Linked DNA regions of Homo sapiens: region 2 is linked to region 1. Evidence: fine-mapped expression QTL. A gene starts in region 1. The other region holds a variant in brackets. All regions are shown on one strand. Distances are between the middles of the regions. Region 1 holds the start of HMBOX1 (homeobox containing 1). Region 2 overlaps HMBOX1 (homeobox containing 1).

Region 1 (8,338 bases):
CCAGGTTCAAGCGATTCTCCTGCCTCAGCCTCCCGAGTAGCTGGGATTACAGGCATGCACCACCATACCCAGCTAATTTTTGTCTTTTCAGTAGAGACAAGGTTTCGCCATGTTGGCCAGACTGGTCTCGAATTCCTGACCTTAGGTGATCTGCCCACCTCAGCCTCCCAAAGTGTTGGGATGACAGGCATGAGCCACCATGCCTGGCCTATATTATCAAAATCTTAAAGCAGAACAATTCAGTCTTAAGTCATCCCTGTTTCAGCAGTACCCACAGCATTTCACTTTCTTGCTATAAAAATTGTGACTAGATACAAATTAAAGTTACTGCCACTTGGCAACTCCACGCTACTTAATACGTATACAGTAATGAGGCTACTAATATTTTCAATACACCACATGTGGACCATCTCTGGACATAAGATAAACAAAGAAGCAGCCAGAGAGAATACATACTCAGCATGTGGAATTTAGTCAACATTTTTATCACAATCCACACTCTAAATTTAAGAAAAACCTAAGTGCCCTTTGACTGGATTAGAATCATTTTACCACTTAACAGGAAGGAGTCTAGTGTCACCCATTTTAAGGGTGAAAAAGTTAAAATAATTGATCACTTCAAAGCTAAAATCAGACTATTGTTACTGTTTTTTTTTTTTGCAAATGTTAAAAAAAAACTATAGCCTAAGAATCTGTCAAATATTGCATTAAGATTACACTAATCACTGGAAAAACTTAATGTAACTTCAACTTTATTACCACTATAAGGGTAAAAACCATGCTAAAGCCAGGGCCCTTCCAGGAGCTAAATGCTCTTGGAAAGTGTCCAAAACAATGTTATAGTAAATTTCCAACTTGTTTCATCTAAGGTCAAGGAAAACAAATTATCTAAAGCACTGGATTATGTTTGAATACACTGCAACTAAAAGTTTACATCAAATAATCCCATGGAAAAATCTTTACTCTGCGCCTATGATGGGCCCTAAATCCAGTAAGGGCAATGTGGGGGAATAGCTGCACCTAGGAATCCATGCTACGTCTTACTTACTAATATTTTGAGAAAACTTTCAATATCAATAGCTTCCATTTTGAGAGAACTGTATTTTAACAAAATCTGTGAAAATAATGGTTTGGAATGATAATGAAAATCTCCTCAGCTTCTATAATGTGGACAACATGTGCTGGTTACTCTTTGGTTTCTAGCTTCAGTCAAAGTTCAAGGTCTTCTGCTATTTGTGGCTCAGATTCTTTCTTATGGGAGGCATGTCTGATAGATATACACCAATTTCATAAATAAATAAATAAACATAAAAGTATTTTATGTATGAGTGTATTGTGGGTGTACATATATGGCACTCTAGACAAGCCATGCTTTTCACTCACAACAATGCTTTAATAAATTACAGTTCTACTACAGTGGGAAGTAAAAGCCAACTGTTAACAGAAAAATCTAGCCAAAGAATAGCAAAGTGAGCTACAAAATTAATTCCAGAAGCCAAAGAACTAAATAAAGCTGGTTCACAAAACAAACAAAACCAACACATTTTCAATGAGCACTATTCGGTTTATCTATAAATGTTCATGTATTTAAAAAGTTGAGTGGTATGCCAACTTTCACTTATGACAACATTCTACATAAATACCTGATTCCCAAGAGAAATAATTCAGGTTTAAAGAGCTGTATACAAAAATAAGAGAAGCAAGAGCTACAATGAAATGAACAGAACTAAATTGCACGGGAGCCCTAAATGTGGGATGTGCTGAATACAGTGTACAGGAGACTCAAAATACACAAATTAAGCCTAAATATTCCCAATGTATTCAATATCTATGAAACAAGCAATAGAATTCCAATCAACACTTGCCACAAAAATTGCCATAAGCTGGTTGCTATTTTTTAAATGATGTAACAATGACAGATTTGTTGCCACATATTTTGTAACTTAGGAACACTGAGCTATTAAGTTTCTATTAGCGATGTTTTAACTGAGGATTTGGGCTAGAAGACTGAAATCTGTTTGTACAGCAGTGAAAACGAAGCCTCACTAAAGGCATTCAACTTCCAGCTAAAGGCTCCTTTCCTTGATGCGTATTTGTGACCATACATAGTGTTCACTAAATGCAGTAAACTAAACTAGCAACAGATTAGTTAAAAGCAGCTTAGATTTTCAACTTCCCATAATACAGGCAACATCTTTAGAAGCAATCACATTAAAATAAATGTGTCTTTCACAGTTACGGGATGAAATTGTAAGCTGGACAAGCACCCATGCCCTGGTTTTCTACTTTATTTGTAAACCATATGACTCTCACATGCTGAGAATGTTTTATGCTTTAACCTGCAGTAAAGGCTTTACATCATTTTAATGCCCAGTACTTAAAATGCAACAGAATCACCCCCAACAAATGCTGGGAATATATTTGGTTTACATGTAATGATTTTGATCCCACTAGTAGCCAGAAAAAGTTTAATGAATGCTTTTTCAAGTAAATAACTTTGCACTTCTATAGACAAAACAAAAAGAAATTTTGAGGTAAGGGTAGATGGAAGAGAAAACACTCGTGTTTTTCCAATTTAAAATATTAACAAACATGTTGGTTTTTTACTTCTAAAATAATTATTAAACATTTTTTAAAAAACTCCATGACTATTATAATATGCTTCAGAAAAATAAAACAAAACACTCCGTTAAGTAGTTACGTAGGATTTTTCTCTGGTTTTTGCAAAGTAGTGTTTCAAGTTAAGATACAAGCTTAAAACAAATGATTCTGAAAATCCTGGTCTATCACAAACTAATGGCTTAGTTTTGAATCAACATATTGTATATTCTACATCTGAGATTTAGAAATCACATTTTTTTTTCTATTCAGGTCAATTGAAATATACATGCTACCTCACTCTTTCAGTCCCCCTTATCTGTGTGAATGACCAACAGCAAAAATTTTAAATCAATGGTTAGAGGACATATCATAAAATTACACACTCTATCAATGTGGTTTTCAGTTATCATAGAATCTAAAGGTCCCTTACTGATGATAGGTGGCAGATTCAAGAATTGATAAGTTTGGGGAATATATTCAATTCTCAACAGTCGAAATAGAAATTATGCCAATTTCTTTACTTTAAAAATCCGTTACACTAAAAAAATTGTCACATAAGGATTATTGAAGAACTTAATAAGGAAGTACAAAATATGACCTTAAATTCTCCTAGTGTGTTATTAAATATTAAAAACTGTGAGAAATAAGAGATGTTGCAATCCTTTCCTTTTTAACTCTAATTGAAATTTGAAAAAAAATTTAGAATTCAAATTTCCCAACTTTGACTTAGAAACATAATTCAGCTAGATCAAGCAACTTAATTGCACAATTTTAAAATAAGTTTAATGCAAAGCACTGCAATCCTGATGTGATAATTACCTGCAGCATAAATGCAAAATAATAAATGCATTTAACGATGCATTTTATGGTAAAACCACAAAAAGCACAACCATATTAGCACAAACTAAATAAAAAGACACAGGCGGTATTATGTCCAACAGAAAGAGAAATGTTGTACGAAGCCAAGAAAGAAAGGAAGGACTTAAGGAAGGAAGGAAGGAGGGAGGATAGGAAGGAAGGAAGAGGGAAGCCAGAGGTTTCTGTACCTGCAGGATACCAGAGAAATGAGCTAGTCACATCACTCTACCTTATATGATACATGGGTGATTTTTTTTAAGCTTCAGCGTAAATAAAAACAGTAATCACTTTATACCATTCAACTTTACATAGTGTTATCTTTAATGCCAACTGCATTCTTCCCTTTACTCACCCAATGCTTCTTCACTGTTCCATTCCACCAGCTTTCAGGCAAATGCAAGACAGAACAGGGTGGAGTAGAAGAAAAATACAAGCAGCGCCTTTCGGCGCACCCCCTCTCCCGCAAATAATTTCCAACAGTTCCTCCTGCTACGAAAATAAGTCGCCCTATCTCCAGATACATAACAGACATTCCGTCTCCTTAGTAGACACACACAGACGCGTACACAATCCAGCACTCCCGACCCCCACCCCAGGCCCCCCGAATCTTCAGCAATTATTCATCTAATTCACACGAAGACAAGATACCTCTACCTACTGTTTCGGGGTGAAGGTGGGTGGAGGACGCCTTTCAAAGTAGCCCCAATAGTGTAACCAAAACACGGTTCCGGAATAAAATATTAAGAAACACTTTTCCTTTCCCACCTATCTACCGACTTGAGGATGCAAAAAATCCATCTCCACATCACACCATCTCTACAGTTCTCGTGGCTGGAGTTTGGGGTGGAGATTCGTCCAGGGGAGGGGGCGGAGGCGAGTGGCAGAGTGTGAGCGGGCGACGGGACACAAGCGAGTTGTTGAGCCCGGCCGCCTCGCACCACGTCGCCAGCCCAAACGCCCAGCACCAGGACCTCACGCCCGCCCCTCAGCCCAGGCCCAGAGCGAGCGAGGACTCGCGCTGTCTAACTTCCCATCTACAGACACCGCTCCAAGACGAGCAGAGCACACAAGTACACGTCACACAGTTTAAACACACTTACACACCCCAAACAAACCAACACACCTGCAAATCACCTCACAGTTTCCAGAACTCCACACCGGAGACCCCACCTCCAGGATTCAAACCTTCCGCTCATCGTAGAGGAAACCAGAAGAGTTGGGGGGCAGTCGACGCCTTTCCAGGACCGGACCCCACGAACTGCCCCACCCCACAGCCCGCGTCTGGGTCACCCACTCGGAAGCCCCCTGCTTCCTCCCTCCTCTCAATCCGGCCGCTTACGAGACCCATCCCCAGCGTCCGCTCACTTCCTCCCCAAAACCCCTCCAAAAAAATTGTTTTAAGTGAAGAGAAAGAAGTGAGGAAAGAGACTTGAGGTAGTCCGGCTTCAAAACCGCTCGACTCACCTCAGAATCCTCGCTGAGTTCTCTCCGCCCGGCACAGCCCCCTCCCCAACGTCCCAGTACGAAGGGCTGAGATAGGGAGGAGGGAAGGCGGGAGGGGGAGGGGTGTCTTCCGCGTGGGGCGCCCGTCGGGAGGGGACTGGGGAGGGGTTGAGGCCGGCGCAGGAAGAGGAGAAGGGGGAGGGGAGGCCCCTATCTCCCAGTCTCCCCCTGAAAAACCTCCCTTGTCTCAATCACATCAGACTGACTGTCTTTGTCTGGCTGACAACCGCCATATTGATATCAACAGCCCCTCTCCCACCTGCTGCCGCCGGGCGTCCCTGGGAGTTGTAGTTCCTGCCTCCCCTGAGAAAAATTGCGGAGCCCGGCGCCTAGAGGGCCAAGGGAACTACAACTTCCGGCAAGCCCCGTGCCCATCCGCCTTCCCTTTGGGAGGAGGGAAAGGGGAGTCGGAGCCGTCGGGACTACACATCCCAGAACACCATGGGCCCCAGGCCCGTAAGGAAGACATGATATCATGCTGGGGTGGAGAGGGAGGATGCATTGGCGGCTGGGATGAATTTGAGCTGACGGAAGGAGGCGTTCGGAGAGGAAAGGGAGGAAAAGGAAAGGCGACCACAGTTCCCATGATGCCTGGAGGGGAGACTACATTTCCCATTATTCCCCTGGAAGGGACGTGAGGATGAAAGACTGCAAGTCCCGCGATGCTCTCGGCTGGCAGGTGGCGGAGATTGCACCGGAAGACGCTTCCTGGGTTTGAGGAGTTCAGTGACTGCTATTGAACCACCAAAAGTCCATTATGAAACTGGTGAGTCTTCGCTCCTAGGTCAGAGGGCAAAGGTGATGCTATAACCTTTTGGACCTCTTTTTTTCCTACGTTGGGCAGGGAATCGTCGCACGGGAGGGGTAGCAATTATTGAGCTGGAAAGTGGAGTGGGCTAAGGAAAGCTGCTTTTTGTTGTTGAGAAGGTTTGAATTCCCTCTCCCCCACCCCATCCCTCCCAGGAGGTCTTTTTTCACTCGTTAGTGGGTCTTTTTGTTCAGACAAGAGGTTGACTGTCACAGTCCTTCGCCCATGAACTCTGTGGGCTCTGTTAACCAGGTTTGGACGTCCTGGTTCCCACGTGAGGGTTATAATAGGCTGTTAACAATCCGTTTCCATTCGATTGGCGCTTGAGTATCCTGTCTCCCTACTGTTGTTGAGACTGGCTAGATTTAAGCAGACAGTAAAAAACATCCAGCAGAACGTAATCACTTATTAAATATCCTGTTATATAGACTCCTCACTGCCCTTGGAATTCAGGACGAGGTCAGAGTGTGGAGAAGTTGAGTCTTAAACCCTGCATGGGATTTAGATGGGCAGAGAAGTGTTATATGGTATTCCATTCTAAGACTGTAGGGACTTCATGAGCCAAGGCTGAATGAAGCGTGCTCGGTATACCTGAAGTCTTAACATCACACAGCTCAAGCACCTGGTTCATGGAGGCTCCTCAGACCTTTGATTTGAGCCATTTGACTCATTGTGCACACAAGTCTAACTAGTTTATTCCAACTCGATTCAATTAGTTAATAACATAGTGTAGAAAGGCAGGTGTGAAACACTGTTTCTCAACCTTTTAAAACCCATATTTGTGCAGCCAAGTTATTGTCAAGCTTTACTTGAGGCAGGAGAATCGCTTGAACCCGGGAGGCAGAGGTTGCAGTAAGCCAAGATCGCGCCACTGCACTCCAGCCTTGCAACAGCGCGAGACTCTGTCTCAAAAAAAAAAAAAGTTTATTTTTTACCATTTATATAATTATCTGAACATGCTTTGCCAAACCACACAACACACCTACCCTCATCTTGATAATCATTGTGCTACAGGCATATATTCTGCAAAGCCAGCTGTTTTCTGCGAAGTCAGAGAAAGTATTAAAAGTGGATTCAATTCCGAAATTGTCCCCGTATAAATCTGTTTATATAAGGGGAAGGATGCGGGTCACTAAACCTTGAGAATAGCAACTTACCCCTGGGTCAGTGTGTTACACATTTAATAATGCAGAATTAAAAGTCATAGCCGTTGCCCTACAGAAGCATGCAACCTAAGAAGAAGATAGAAAAGTAAACCAAAGTTATTATTTATTTATTTAGAGACAGGGTCTGGCTTTGTGGGGCCCAGACTGAAGTGCAGTGGCGCGTTCTCAGCTCGCTGCTACCTCCACCTTTCGGACTCAAGCGATCCTCTCGCCGCGTCAGTCTCCCCATATAGCTGGGAATACAGGCGCGCACCACTGCACCCTGCTTATTTTTTTTGTAGAAATGGGGTTTAACCATGTTGCCCAGGCTGGTCTCAAACTCCTGGGTTCAAGGTATCTGCCCACCTCAACCTTCCAAAGTGCTGGAATTACAGGCATGAGCCACCATGCCTGGTCCGAAATTATAATTCACTGTGTTCATGGTGAAATAGAGGCGTGTTCAGGGTTTTGGGAATTCAGAGAACAGAGGATTGGGGAGGTCAGGGGACAGCTTCCTGGAAACGTGACTCTTGAACTGATAAGGATAAGTAAGCCAGGGCCTTCCATGAAAGAGGTCAGCTTATAGGAGCATAAGAGCTTGGTACCTTATTGGCTAAAGCATGGACCCTGTGTTCTCAATAAAGAGCAAATTATATTTAATGTGTTCAGTTTAAGAAGGCAGGGAAGTGTGAAATAGTTTTTCCCATAACAACTCATTAGTGAGGGTATCAAAAAGCCAGGGTTTACTTTACATATATTTTAGTTTGCTCATAAAATCCTCCTGCTTAATTTATTTAGAAATATGAAACCGGGGATTGTAAAAAAGTGGAAAATTATTTTTTCCATTAAGAACCAAAGATGTCTCAGAGGAAAAGGAAGTATTCTATTGATACTCATACTCCCTCTTTACTTTGCAACTATGTATTACATACTAAAATTTATTTGGTAGTTGATAGATAAATGTAATTGAGAATTCCCATCAACATACCAAAAGCATTGTTGCTCAGTAAGTTAGATGGGTGTGTCATGCCTCCCAAATGGTTGGAATAAGTCCTCCCATGGCCTAAAAGTTTTAATTTTGTGTACTGCTTCAGAAATATGTAATAGGCTGTGTTTTAAATTTATAATTATGAAACAAAAACACATTTTGTTTAGCATTTTCTCATTTTTGAGATTCACTTTCCAGAGTACCCTTCCCACACACAATCTATGACCACCTCTTATTGATTCTGCTTCCTAAATGCAGCTTTCTTAAATAGGTTCTATTTCTCTCCAGTCCAACTAGAATACTGTCTTTGTAATCGGAATTCAACAAGACCCCTTATCTGGTCTCTCTGCATTCAGTCTTAACCCTCTCAAATTCATTCTTTCCTCTGCATCCGGAAGTTGTTTTAATTGCAGAGTTCCATGAAACCCTCTCAGT
Region 2 (8,338 bases), 160 kb before region 1:
TGGCCATGCACAGCTGCCTCTCCAGGAAAATCTTCCACTCTCATCAGGGAACACTGGACTGGATAACTCAGGTATTCCTAGGTGAAGTAAGTCAGACAATATGGAAATGAAGAAATAAAAAGAGGGCTTTCAGGGCACACAGCTCAGTTTGCCAAATTCAACATGGCTACAACTGATCCCCAAATCCTGAGTAAACACCCTTGCTATTTAATAAGCACAAGCAAAAAAAAAAAAAAAAAAAAAAAATGGAATGCCTTATATGTGTCATTCCCACCCCTGCCCCAGGACATCCCCCCACCCCATCCCACACTCCCCAAAGATACCACCAGCAGGAGCTGGGCAATATGCCCAACTTTCACTTGGGAAATCCTGACAAATCAATCCGGCTCAGTAAAGCTATAAATGGATTTGGCTGGTCTCAACACAGCCCCAATGAATACAGTAGTAAAACATTACTAATAATCACAACAAAATGACAAAATCTATCATCACTCTGACATGATTCAGATCACAGAGATTAACACAGAAACCAACACACAATGGTGAGGGCCAGGGTTCTTCAATGTAGTGTGCTACTGAGCACGGGATCATCAACAAGAAAAATTATTGCCTAAGAATCTGTTGGGACACACTGGGGAGAAAATACTCTGGTCGTTCTCTGAACAACAAAAGACAAAAAACAATTTTAAAAGGCAGAGCCACAAATTAAATGGGAAGACTGCTTGTAACCAAACCCTTCTGAAGACCAGAGAGTAAAGACTTAAGAGTTCACGTTTGTAGGAAGGGGAAGGGAAGGAAGGAGGGAGGGAGAACATCTGTGGGAAAGAGATCATTTCCACTGTTGAGGGCAGAGATGATGAGGCTGGTCAGTGGAATACGTAGCTGGTCAAGACAGGGAGGAGTGTCTGTGTTAAGAGATGGACCACATCCAGCTTTTCCCTGCTGTCACAAGATTAGAAAATTCCAGCAAAGAAGTCAGCTGAAGGCCTAGTCAGAGGGAAACAGAAGAGGAGCTATTCACAGGATGAGGCTGGAGACTCTTGATTCAATGAGTCTGTTTGTACTTGGTGCCTGATGGTTGATATCCAAGGGAGAAGTTTCTAAAGCCAATATTTCTTAAAGACAAATGTTAAACAGGCAGAAAGGAAATAATAACTATATTGGTGAATTCTTCAGTCATCTCCTTTGAGGTAAAATATATCTGGATACATGGACCTAACATAGGTGGTGGTGACCACTGAACTGGCTGCCACCATAAATCTACCAAGAACTAGAGAACTGGATGTGTACACCTCTGCCTTAATGATTTTCCTCGTCTCTGCCCCAGGTTCCTTCTTCCTGTGATGGGCCATGGGAATGTGAATATGGGGGTGGGGTGGGAAGACTGCCCTTGTGAGTGACAGGGGTGGGGACTGTCCAGAGTCATAAGTGAGTGGAAGGCAACTACATTTATTAACCACTTAAAGGATTGTGATTTTGATTGTGAAGAAAATTGCTCTAAGGGCACTCCAACATTACAGACTTTGTTGAAACAAATCAAAACATTTGGAACTGAATAGCACTGAAGGGCTCAGATAAGAATGCAGGGTGTTGCCCTCCCCAGCCTTCATCCACTGTTAGGGTTATCAACAGATGGGCAGAGATCTCATCAAGATGACCCATTTTAAAAGGTCCCTGTGTCAGTGCTTTTAAAGTTTGGAAAGTTTACCCATCTGACCATAGTAATTCAATTAAGGTGTCTTTAAAGAAATAACAAATTATATGAATACCTGTTGGCAAGTTCCCCCACACCCCACTTCAAAAGACCTTTGAAAGTCCTCCTCGACAGGAAGGAACAGCCCCTGCGGGAGTCCCCTGGGGCCTGAAGGAGAGAGTGAAGTACAACGGGAGGGGCGGAACAACCAAGAAGCATACAGTGTGAGTTTTTAGAGCCTGGCTGCTTTCCCTTCAGTAATACGGAAGTTTAGGGTTTCTATTTTAATTCCACCTCTAAAACCTGAAAAAGCCTAAGAGAGAAATATACTACCTAAAGACACTAGAAATAAATATAACAGTAGCAGCGCCACACACCATTACAAGAACCAAGGTGGCCTGGACAAAATGGCAGAATTGAACTTGGTGACAAACAGAAAACTAACAGGTTTAAATCTAGGCCCAAAGGAAGTAAATTCTCACTCTTGGTGAAAAAGCAAAAGTGACATGTAAGGCAGTGGGTCTTCAGAGCAGCCAGCGGTCTTCTCCAATGACAAGAACAACTGTGGGTGGAAGATGCCTTCCTCCTGTTCCCACTGAGCTCTCCAGGACATTCTCCTGCAGTGGTAGAAATATTCTTTCAGTTTTACCACATTGCCATATAGGGTCTGGTACTGCCCTTCATGGATGCGAACTTGCCTTTATTCTCTGAAGCTTTTTTTCTCCCTTAAAGGTGTTAAAACAATGAAACCTTTGAGTGCATCCACGGCAATCTTTGTATTTCTTTAGAAACTGCAGCTGTCTTAACAGTTTGAGTCAGTCTGTTCCTTTAAAAAGACCAGCAAGTACAAATGATACTAGCAATCCCATGATAAAGAAGCTATCAATTATAATAATCCCCTTACAATCAATCATGGATGTGGCTTGTCAGAGCGGATTTTTTCTCTGTCTCCTTGTACTTTCTGATTCAATTGAGAATAAGCGTCAAAATTCCACAAAAATGGGACTATGTTACATTTCCTCTAAGCAAAATAAAAGGAAAGGAAGAGAACGTAATCTCCTAATTGAAATAAAAAGATAAACCAAAAAAGAATATGAGTCGGTGGGGGGGGGGCGGTGGGAGGCTCATTCCTGAGAATAACAAATGCTACTCTTGAATTTGTTGGTTCAAGTAATACAGTAAAACAGAAGAGACGGCTCCACTTCACTTCAATGCTTGGAAGCTGAAAAAAGTACATATATTTTTTCCCCCTGAAATCCATGGACAAAAGTGGGACCAGGCCCTGCATATAGCTCTTTAAAGTCACAGACATATATAAGGTGGCACTTTCATGCCCTCTCAAAGACTTTCCTCACACTCACATAAGCAGGATTAACAGATAAGGAAATGATGCAGTCAGCGTGTGCCTTAAGTGGAAGGAAACCAACTACAAACTGGCGGATATTCAGTATCTCCTGAATGAGAAAGGGAAAACTGAGGAAGGTCATTCAGTCTCTCTCTCTCACAGTTTTAAGTTGAATACATTTGGTGGAGGAGGATGGGTGAAGAGGTAAGGAAATGGCACCTTCCTTTTATCTTAGAAATTGTTTTCAGGTAACGGACAAAAAGAAGCCGTGCTTAACATCCAGCCCCACATGCCCCTTTAAACAAGGCTTCATTATACATAGGAGAGATGGAGCGAGGCAGAAAATCCACAGCAGTTGTGCCTCTTTCAGGCGCACCCTGTGCTGCTACATTGAAGGCTCTTTCCTCTTACCCACAGTGACAGTGTGTCATTTAATCGGGATGCCAAGAGATCATTTTCATACAAGGCCAGCAGATGTAATTTTCTTTGATGCATGAATAGTTCATCATTTTGCTACTAGATGACAAGGTGATCACAGGGTGACTTTAGAATGCAAGTTCACTGTTTGGTATTTTGAGTTCTCAAAATGAAAAAAAGATTTATCAAATATAAATATCTTTAAAAAGTAACAAAAGTGCTACATATGTGATCAAGGAAAAAAATTCCATTAGTTACTGCCGCTTAAAGTAGATTAAACTTTACAAATATTACCACATCCATTATCAATATGGCTTCCAATTATTAAATAAATTGCCTGTAGCAATACAGCTTTTCACACCTCTCCAAGGACAGAGTAAAGAGAACAGCAAAGCAGTCCCATCGTGTTCTCATACAGCCACAATGTGAGTAGGAAACGTCCCCTGCTTTTCTCTGCTCCTATCTGGGCAAGTGTCTGCATCTGTGATAAGCAGCACAACCCCACTATGAAGTCCTCTAGTGACCTCTCAGAGTGAGGGGGCTTCCGTTTAATGGATACAAACACTGCAAGTTTTTTCACTCATTTTTGACCTTAGCTCCATCCTTGAAAGACTTTTTTGGTAGCAGGGAAAGGGGACACTGACAGGAGGCAAAGCAACTTCCACGATGACCTCCAAAACTTTTCCAGGCAGGCACTGCTAACTGTGCCGTGGAATGTACAGTGGTTCTGAAAACTGGACTTAGCATCCATTAGACATTCAGCTCATATTTTTTTTTTCCAATGCTCTCAAGCTGGGTTTTTTTTTTTTTTTTTTTT[A/TA]ATGACTTTTGGTTTTTGTCTTTGTTTTTAATCATGGTCCCAAAGGCAGAAGGCAGTATTTTATCTACTAAGTCACACAGCTTGTGAGAGGAAAGGATGTCTGTGTCAGGCATGTTAACTTCAAACAAAATCTGAGATCGGCTTTTTCCATTGACATTCTTAGCACAGCACCCAAAGAAGTATAATCTAGCCACAGTGTGGCTATAATGAGGCACGGCTTATTGCAGCTGGAAATCAATTATCCTCACGCTGAGGTGGGGATTCTAGTGTTCCTTTGACTCTGTGGATACTCCCCAAATGGTGTCTGTCATTCCTGTGCCACGACCTCAGCTTGCATCCTATCAGTCTTGGGGAAGGAAAAGGGAGTACAGACTAGTGTTACAAGAATCTAAAGGTACCCAAGATTTTACACGTAGTCTAATATTTGAGAACTGAGGGCTATCTAAATACCTGGAAGCACTTTCTTGGAATGCTAAGACGGAGCAGCAAGATTTTCTAGCCTCGGGGGCTGGGAGAGGGAAGTTTGGTTGGTTGGTTGGTTATTATTTACTGGGAGTTAATACTGAGAGAGTATATGCAAAGGCTGAGGGCACCATGCCATCTTCACAGAACAAGACCCTAACAGCTACCTGACATACAAGAAACTGCAAGTTATACTGTAAGAACACATGTTAAGGACCGAGGAAAGTCTGCTAAGGTGCTACGTCTAAACTAAGTTAACTTGTCATGTTTAACCTCCCTGATCAGTCATCATCCAGGGCCTCTGTCTTGATTTCGTTGGCTCCTTGTCGGGCCAATGCCAAGATAGTGTGGTTGACTGCTGCCATTTCCACAGCTAATGAGATGGGGTCTTGGTGGTCACTATGGCTCGTACTGTCATCCTAGATGTGCAGAAATAAGAAATGTTATTAGTGGATTGGAAGAATTCTTTAGTCACAGAGAGACATGCTGGGGCAAGGGGAGGCAGAACATTCGTGGGAGGAAACTGGGGGAGGGGCTCATGATAAAATAGAGGTAAATTGTATTTAAGTAGACACTGAATGGATATAGGTCCAAAGATTTTCAGTTGATAATCTTATGATTCAACAAGTAAAAAGCACAAAAAATGTTTTTCATCACTGAGAATTCTATTCATTCTATTAATAAGATTGCTGGTGATGATGATCAAACCTGCAGTGATTGATATAAAACCAACAATTTGGATCTTTCTGTTTGTAACAAATATAGCACTAATCACTGAAGGCCATACTAGTGAGCTATTAAATTCCAGATTGCTGCTCTTACAAATAGATTATTAGAATTCATGGTCCCTCTCTGAACTGAGAAAACTAGACAGAACTTACAATTACATCTTACAGATAAAAAATGCATTTTTGTAAAAAAAGAAAAAAAGAATTCTCCATTACAACAGGACACATGTCACTGCCAGAAACGGCTACGGGAGAAAGGGGAGGAAGGTGTCGAGCTCTCCTGCTGCAGGCAGCTGTGCAAGGGGAGCGGCAGGCGTCTTACCTAGAACTAGTGTGAAGCTGTCCTCCCCGCGCAGCTCAATGTGTTAAACAATAAAGCTGTGAAGGAAGCTGGCATTGCAGGATGTACGTCAGGCACTGAAGATGGTGTTACAAATAAGGGGTATGTTTCTCACCTGTCATCTTCAGGGGAACTCCGTATCAAAGAGCTTTGGAAAGGGTAAGTCCCTTAAGGAAAAAAACAAACAAAACATGGAATGTGCTGCCCTTAGGGCATCTGTAAAAAAAGATGGAAATGATCCATCTATGTGGGTAGACTGAAAAGAGGAATGTTTCCGAACAGAAAGACTTACAGAATATTCTCTTGGGGCTATTAACTAGAGTCCTAAATGGGAAAAAATGGTAGTTCTTCAGAAGTGTGGACATCATTGTTTCCTTCTGATGTTCACAGATTAGTTTTTAGAATTTACAAAGGGATCAGCACACACTTGCATGCATTCTAGGTGTGTGGTAAACAGAGGCTATTAAAGAACACATTGGACTATATGAGCTGGCTGAGGAGCAAGAAAAAAGCACAGACCCCAGAAAAATGAGCAGAAGTTTTCTTGCTGTGGTCTAGGGGAAGGTACCATGCGTTCTCTGCATATTCCAAATGGAAATTTAAATCCTATCAAAATTTTAATGAAATCTGTCAACATCTATGTGGGGGTCGAGGAGGGACTCCCACAGTCTTAGTTACTGAATTACTCCACGCAGTGGCTACAATTAAATACATTTTCCCCAAAAGCAATGCAGAATAAATCAGGGCGAGGTGAAGAGTCATGCAGGTATTGCACTTATGAGAGGATGCATGTGTCAGTGTGCCAGAGACTCTGGAAGAACCACTCCTTTGGGCAGGAGGGTTCCCACTGCAGTGGGGCCAGAGTGAGTGGGGCCTTCCATCGTGCCCTGCGTCGGTACGTGTTTAGGCATGGGGTCCAGCTGCCCCTAGTATTTCTCAAACACTGAGTGTGTGTCGTGAATGGTGTAACTTGCTTGTTTGGATCAGATCCTCCTCTCTTCTTCTACCTTCTCTGCTTCTCTGCCTCCCTCTGAACTTCTTCCCTCCTCCTCCTCCCCATTGCGTACTTGCCAAGTATCCTGTTGTATGACAATAAATCCATGTGGGTGAATAACGATCTCTCACAAATTCAACAGGACAACTGAATCTTACCACATTCCTTTCAAATTACATGAAATCTAACTAGACACAGGAGCAGAGTGGAGGGACAGTGACTGTTTCCCCTCCCCCACCCCATCAGCCACACCCAAGGAACTAAGCTGTCCCACTATACCCCCTGCTCAGGCACCAAGAACCTCGCCCAGCTGCGCAGGGGCTCACCTGCTCAGAGTAGTCATTCCCGTCGACATCATCACTGTTTGAGTGGCCTCCTGGACTCTGCACATCTATCCCATGACTCTCCAGGATTGCTGCTTCTTCGAAAAAAGCAAATAGATCCCTAAATTATCTGTTACCTTATCACAATGGCTGAAACACTGAATGAATTTTTGTGCTAAGGAAATTAATTAGAATGTAATTAAACAAGAACCTGTATTTCTCTACATTTGTTTCTTTTAGACTGTAAGATGGATGAAATTCAACTGCATGTAGGTCAGGGGAGGCACACATTTGCCATTCTGGGGTCTCTGCTGCTGTGCATGTTAGGTGCTTCATAAATACTTGCTAACTAACTAAACAGTCTTCCTATCTTGGGGTTCTATAGAGCATATGAGAACTGTACTGATGAATAAAAAGTGTATTTACAAAGGAAGGAAATGAAATGCATTCTATGCCCATACCACGCTCAATGCGCCCGATCTCGTCTGATCTTGGAAGCTAAGCAGGGTCAGGCCTGGTTAGTACTTGGATGGAAGAAATGAAATGCAATTTTAGAAGCTAAAAACCAACATCCCACCTGACTCACCAACTTAAATTTCTTATTCTTATTTATTACTGTTACAGTTTTGAATGGGAACAAATCCTTTATTTCTTCCTTTTTCAGTTGTATTCGTAGTTCCCTCTAGGGCACTTTTGGCATTTTTGTTTTCTCTGTTCAGCTTTATTGAAATATAATTAATAAAAATTGTATATATTTATGGTGTACAAGGTGATGTTTTGATATGTGTATATATACATAAATGATTACATCAAGAATCCATATTTCTTAAATGCTCTTTATCTCTGCCTTTTGCTGCGTTCCTTGTCTATTAAGTCTCTTTCATTCCAAACCATTAATCAATTGTTTCCTAATATTTAAGTCATAGTCCAGTAATAATGAAGAAATTCTGGGTATTACATTCCCTTTCTCAAGATCTTACAAGTATCTTTCAAATGTACCACAGGAGTAATCAATTGCTCAGGGGCCATGTCTAATTCTATATTCTAGAACTTTAAGAAGAATGAGTTTTATAAATAATAATGTCATTACCATTACACTACAAATAGTGTAAATAATACTAACTGTGGTTTATTAAAAACACAATGAAAGACATTAGGGCAACTTTTGTTAGGCTTAGAAGTTAGGATCCGGCACGGTGGCTCACACCTGTAATCCCAG

What was found. PIP is the estimated chance that this variant, and not a neighbour inherited with it, causes the effect.
Region 2: its variant is fine-mapped to the expression of HMBOX1 in whole blood (INTERVAL, PIP above 0.99).

What each region holds. Positions count from the first base shown.
Region 1 is chr8:28,887,264-28,895,601 of GRCh38, reverse strand. It overlaps HMBOX1 (homeobox containing 1), which reads right to left and starts at 5,207. Exons shown (of 10, transcript NM_001135726.3): 1 at 4,924-5,207. INTS9 (integrator complex subunit 9) reads left to right here and starts at 5,633. Exons shown (of 17, transcript NM_018250.4): 1 at 5,633-5,728. The coding sequence starts at 5,720. RefSeq lists a silencer at 4,965-5,084 and enhancers at 4,737-5,293, 5,455-5,654, 5,294-5,850.
Region 2 is chr8:29,047,833-29,056,170 of GRCh38, reverse strand. It overlaps HMBOX1 (homeobox containing 1), which reads right to left. Exons shown (of 10, transcript NM_001135726.3): 9 at 7,123-7,217; 10 at 2,909-5,153. The coding sequence ends at 5,016. It also overlaps the pseudogene RNA5SP260. Among named protein-coding and RNA genes, the nearest start is that of HMBOX1, 160 kb to the right of the region's middle. The variant A/TA (reference allele first, on the strand shown) is at 4,273.